Linked DNA regions of Homo sapiens: region 1 is linked to region 2. Evidence: fine-mapped expression QTL. Tissue or cell type: left ventricle. Region 2 holds a variant in brackets; the other region holds the start of a gene. All regions are shown on one strand. Distances are between the middles of the regions. Region 1 holds the start of EXTL3 (exostosin like glycosyltransferase 3). Region 2 has its middle 70 kb from the start of EXTL3-AS1.

The links. PIP is the estimated chance that this variant, and not a neighbour inherited with it, causes the effect.
Region 1: it holds the start of EXTL3, and the variant in region 2 is fine-mapped to the expression of EXTL3 in left ventricle (GTEx, PIP above 0.99). The same link has a PIP of 0.9 or more in atrial appendage.

The regions. Positions count from the first base shown.
Region 1 is chr8:28,699,911-28,702,816 of GRCh38, reverse strand. It overlaps EXTL3 (exostosin like glycosyltransferase 3), which reads right to left and starts at 1,316. Exons shown (of 7, transcript NM_001440.4): 1 at 1,158-1,316. EXTL3-AS1 (EXTL3 antisense RNA 1) reads left to right here and starts at 1,353. Exons shown (of 3, transcript NR_126027.1): 1 at 1,353-1,457; 2 at 2,774-2,906. RefSeq lists silencers at 748-1,157, 1,258-1,327, 1,398-1,577.
Region 2 is chr8:28,629,872-28,632,777 of GRCh38, reverse strand. It overlaps a transcript of EXTL3 not described here. Among named protein-coding and RNA genes, the nearest start is that of EXTL3-AS1, 70 kb to the left of the region's middle. The variant C/T (reference allele first, on the strand shown) is at 1,227.

The DNA.
Region 1 (2,906 bases), 70 kb before region 2:
GCACGGGGAGCTCTGCCAGTAAAAATGAAGCTACCTAAATTGGACAAAGAATAGGACAAAGTGACAAGAAATGCTAAAGACGACTCTTAAGTAAATCACATATGGGGGAAATAATGGACATGTTGTGGTGTTCTGCGCTTCCTCCTCCACCAAAGGAGTCGAACCAAGAGGACTTGATGAAGCTTTTAGAGTTTTTAAAAAGGGAAGAAAAATCCAGGTTGCGGGGAAGGGCGGGGGTGGGGTGGTGCGGGTGGCGGGGGAGGGGCAAAATCCACAAAATTTAAGTCTTCTGAGAGCCAAACAGATTTTATTAATAAAAGGAGCCGAAGCTCTCGCTCAATGTGGGGAAGAGAAAGCAGCACCCATCAGCAGCCGGGCAGCCCTGGCTCGCCTCCGAGGGGCTCGGAATAGGTGCTGTCCCCGTCGCTGGGCTCGGAGCTCCGCCGCGCACACACGCCCCGCGCACCCCTGTCCGGTCCAGCCCGTGCAGCGCGAGGCCGGCTCTAGGGGAGCTGGGCCTGGGAGCCAGGGTCCTGCAGCACCTGGACCCTCGGACAGGAAGCGGCTCCTCTGACTGTGGCTCCTGAAAGGAGGCGAGCCCGGCAAAAAGAGCCAGCGGGGAGGGCAGCAGGCGACTGCGTGTAGAAGCGGGGGGCAGATGTGGGAAGGTGTGCTCGGGAAGGGGTGGGGGTAGTCCGGAGCTGCGCCTCCGCCGACAGAAGATGCTCCGGGCCAGCAGCCAGAGAAACGCCGCGGGTCACAGAGGGTGGAGGGCTTCAGGGAGCAGAGGAAGCCCAACAGCTGCAGCCGAGCGTCCAAAAAAAGGTGGAGGCGGGTCCCGAGCAGCCCAAACTGGGACGAGAGAGGGCGTGTGGGGGCGGGGAGGGGGTGCCCCAGCCCAGGGACCCGTTAGCCCTCCCGGCTGCCGGCCGAGGGCCTGGCGGCCTCTCCCCGGGCCCCCGAGCCACCGGGCAGGCCTACTCCGCTCGGAGGCTGCATGCCTCCCGCCGCCGGGCAGCAGCAGCCTCCCCGGGGCACGGCGGACCCGGTCCCTCCCGCCGCGTCCCCAGCGCTCGGGGCCAGCCCCGGCACCCTCCCATGAGCCCTTCCGGGCGCGGCCCCCGCTCCTCGGGCTCACGCGCGGCCAGCAGTCCTACCGGCTTCCAGCTCAGGGACCCGCCGCCGCCGCCGCCGCCGCCTGCGCGAAAGTCGGCGTCCCAGAAGCCGTTCTGGCTGCCGGCCGCCCGCCTTCCAGGCCGCGCCTGATCCGCCGCTCCCCCTGCCGGCCGGCAGCCATTTCCGACAGGCGACTGCGGAACTTGCCGAAGGGCGCCGCGCCGGAAATGGCCGAAGCCGGCGTTCGCGAGCGGGGGCGCGGACGCGGGCGCGCGCTCGCCACTTTCCCGACCGCGTCCGAAGACCGCCGAGGCCTCCCGCAGCTCCGCGGTGACACCCGGGTCAGGGGCGCGGGGCCGGGCGCCGGGGATTGTGGGAGGCGCGGGGGGGCGCGCCGGCCGCCTTCGGAGCCCCCCAACTCGCGTCCTGCAAAGGCCGCCGGGCCCTGTCGAGAAGACCCGACCGCAGATGGCGGGGAGGATGCTCCCGGCGGCGTGGGAACCGGGTCTGACTCCCGAGCCACCGCCGCTTCCGCAGGGGCGCCGGCCCCGGGAAAGTCAAGTCATAAATCCCTGAATCTAAAACTCCATTCTCAGAGAAAAGGCCTCCAAGGACGGGCGCCGTGCGCGGCAACTGCCTGCAGTTTTGAAGCCCTTTGACTATTTCATAACAAAGACAAGGCCGGGCGGCTTGGACGCTTAGGAAAATCCTGGGGCTTTGCAAAAACAACAGGTTAATCTAGTCGTGTGGGATGATCACCAAAACAAGACAGGAAAGAAGAACACCGTGTCAATGCTGAAAAGCCAGCCCCTGTGAGCCCCAAAGTGCACGTTTTCCACAGTCCCAAGGAACACGTGACTGTGTGTTTCCACACTTGAGAAGTCAGGATAAGACCCCTTGGATAATGGAACAGGGGATGGGGGTGGGAGCAAGCACCCTACCTGGTCACCTGCTTAACTTAGAAACCAGCTTTTAAAACCTGTAACTGCAGTATGAGCTACGATCAAATTTGTCTTAACGTATTTTTTTTAATGTTTTTAATACCCAGAACACAGGGCTTCTACTCCAGGGTTTCCTCGCCAGGGAACCCCAAACACACAGGACCTGGAGAAGCCGGGTAGAGCTGGCTCCTGGCCCTGCGCTTGGGTGGTCGGCTGCCTTAAGAAGAACTGCACCCCAGAGACAGGCTCGCAGCTGCCGACCTTATCCACTCGCCCTTTCTGCTGGAGCCCAGGCCCAGTGCTCCAGCAAGGAGGCTGAGAAAATGCTGAAGACTGATGCCCACGGGGGACAGCTTGGGCTAAGGATAACGTTTGCAAAACAAACCTTTAAAAACCCATAGCAACCTGTTTCCTAGAGCACACTCTTCATCTCTCCACCCCCAAACTAGTCCCGACTCGGATCCTCCTTTTCCTATCCTCTTTCTCTTGCTCTCCCGTCTCCTATTCACTTTTCTTCTCCTTTCCTCTTGATTATTATAAACAAATGCTTTCCAAGTCTTACCGCCATCATATGTGTACATATGCAACCCTTACTGTTACCAATTTGTTGAAGTCAAGACAGGAGGAGGCAAAGTTTAAAAATCAGAAGTATTGCAGGAAATGAAAATGGAGTGAGTGTTGCCTGGGTATCATAATTTTTTTTTTTTTTTTAACAGTTCCTCTACTTGGCTCTCCTCCAAAGGTACGCGGCCACAGCAGGCAGGGGCTTGGCAGTGTGGGAGGAGACACCACAGAAGACAGGGAAGAACTACCAGGCCTTGGTTCATCTCCACACTGGCGAGAGAGGAC
Region 2 (2,906 bases):
GTTCGAGACCAGCCTGGCCAACATGGTGAAACCCCGTCTCTACTAAAAAATACAAAAATTAGCTGGGTGTGGTGGCGTGCCTGTAAATCCCTGCTATTTCGAAGGCTGAGGCAGGAGAATCGCTTCAACCCAGGAGACAGAGGTTGTGGTGAGCCGAGATCGTACCACTCTACTCTAGCCTGGGCAACACAGCAAGACTCCTCTCAAAAAAAAAAAAAAAAAAGAATAAATGAGATAATGCAGTTAAAACACTTAGCAGAGGGCCTGCACTAAGGTCTCAATCATTGTTAGCACTCATTATTATTACTATTATTATTGTTTATATACCTTAACTTTAATTGGCAAAACAACCAAGAAATACGAGATAACTCTTTTGTTTTTTGAAATGAAGTTTCACTCTTGTTGCCCAGGCTGGAGTGCAATGGCATGAACTCAGCTCACTGCAACCTCTGTCTCCTGGGTTTAAGCGATTCTCCTGCCTCAGCCTTCCAAGTAGCTGGGATTACAGGTGCCCAGCTAATTTTTGTATTTTTAGTAGAGATGGGGTTTCACCATGTTGGTCAGGCTGGTCTTGAACTCCTGACCTCAGGTGATCCACCTGCCTCAGCCTCCCAAAGTGCTGGGATTACAGGCGTGAGCCACCACGCCTGGCCCAAGATAAATTTTTTTTTTTGGTGGGTGGTGGCGGGATGGAGTCTCACTCTGTCGCCAGGCCGGAGTGCAGCGCAGTGGCTCAATCTTGGTTCACTGCAACCTCCGCCTCCCAGGTTCAAGTGATTCTCTTGCCTCAGCCTCCCAAGTAGCTAGGACTACAGGCGTGCACCACCACACCCAGCTAATTTTTGTATTTTTAGTAGAGACGGGGTTTCACCATGTTGGCCAGGATGGTCTCGATCTCTTGACTTTGTGATCCACCCAACTCGGCCTCCCAAAGTGCTGGGATTACAGGCATGAGCCACTGTGCCCGGCCCAAGATAACTCTTAATATCCCATTGAGGATCAGAAAATTAAGTACTTTGTGAAACTAGCAACTAGCAGACCTAGGATTTGAACTTGATATACCTGACTTCAAAGTCCATGCCTTTTCCATGGCATCATCCTACCTCCTGTTTAGTTTATCTGAAGCATATTCCCTGGATGGTTGCTAATCCCTGGTCCGCCCATCAGCAGCAGGCATTATCATCCCCAGAGCCTGCTATCTTGTGTCAGGATTAGCACAGGACTTA[C/T]TCTATTCTTGTTTTAACACTTCAACGCCTGTTGGACCACTTAGCTCTTATTTCATGCCAAGGGATCCTCTGCCCTGTAGCACAGAGAAAATAACTGAGCTCAGAACAATGAGAACTTTTCCAGTCTTCTCACTTCTCCAGGTTCTTCTGATGACTCATCGCCAGGTAACTTCCTGAAAGTGACTCTCCCAGAATCCTAGCACACCAGGATTCTAACAGTAAACCACTTTACACATCAGTCATAACTCCAGATAGCTTCCACCAAAGGTAAGAAGAGTGCCGTGGTATAAAAACCATCAGAGCTGTCCATAAAATGTTACTGATGGTACTGTTCACAGCTTCAAAATTATATTCAAGGGAGGCCACGTGATAATCCTTCCTTGATTTAGCTCCAGAAAAAAAAAAAAAGTCCTCTCTAAAGTTGAATCTGTGTACTTTCTCTTACTAGAATAAGAAAATGATGTCACCCGACCTGTTTCCTTTTCTGTCGTGGCTTCTAAGAAACTTAAAGCCAAATTCTGTGCCAAAATGTCTCATCTCAGGTGTCCCACGGGATTTATTTCTGCTTCACTGCTTTGATCACTTTTATGTTTTATAATTTTAAAAACAGCTAGTCTCTACTGTGCGTCTCCTATATACCTGGCACCATGCCATTCCTGACATGCCTTCCTTCTTTCTGCATACATTTCCTGATATACCTTCTTTCTTTCCTGTATGCATTTCCAGCAAAGTTCTTTGACACCTCACCCACTTGTCTATCTACGTGTCTGTCTTCCTCCGCCCCAGTTATAAGCCTCTCAATGGCAGGCACCATGTCTTACCCATCCTTACCTGTTCTGCTCCTAACACAGTATTGCCACTAACGTGGCACTCAGTAAAAGTGCTGAATGAAAACATTAATGGATTTCTAATTCTCCCAACAACTCTGTAAAGTTGTTACTGCATTTTACAGATGAGGAAACGTAACATTCTGGTAGGTTAGTTAATTTTTCCAAGGTTCCAGAGTTTGATAAGTGGTTTCAAAGCTGGCCATTGTTTTACTAAACTACCCTAGTGCCTTATTTTTTAAGTTATGTTTTATCTTGTAGTCTACAACTCAACTCTCCTGGGAGCAAGCAGATACAAATAGTGGGTTAGTGGGTTAATGTATTAGTACTGCTAATAAAGACATACCCGAGACTGGGTAATTTATAAAGAAAAAGAGGTTTAATGGACTCACAGTTCCACATGGCTGGGGAGGTCTCACAATCACAGCAGAAGGCAGAGGAGCAAAGGCACATCTTACATGGCAGCAGGCAAGAGTGTGTGTGCAGGAGAACTCCCCTTTATAAAACGATCAGATCTCATGAGACTTATTCACTATCACGAGAGCAGCATGGGAAAAACCTGCCCCCATGTATCAATTACCTCCCACCAGGTCCCTCCCACGACACATGGAGATTATGGGAGCAACAATTCAAGATGAGATTTGGGTGGGGACATAGCCAAACCATATCAGTTAAAAAAGAAAAAGAGGCTCTATCTACCTTTATGCATCATCGTGATGAGTCAACCTGGCTTTATCCTTAGAGGCCACAAGATTGGGATGTCGTCCCAGGAAAATTGTGGGTCTTCCAGATTGCACCCCCTTCCACATCTCTCTCTCTCTCTTGCATCTCTGCTTATCTCTGAATAGCTCTC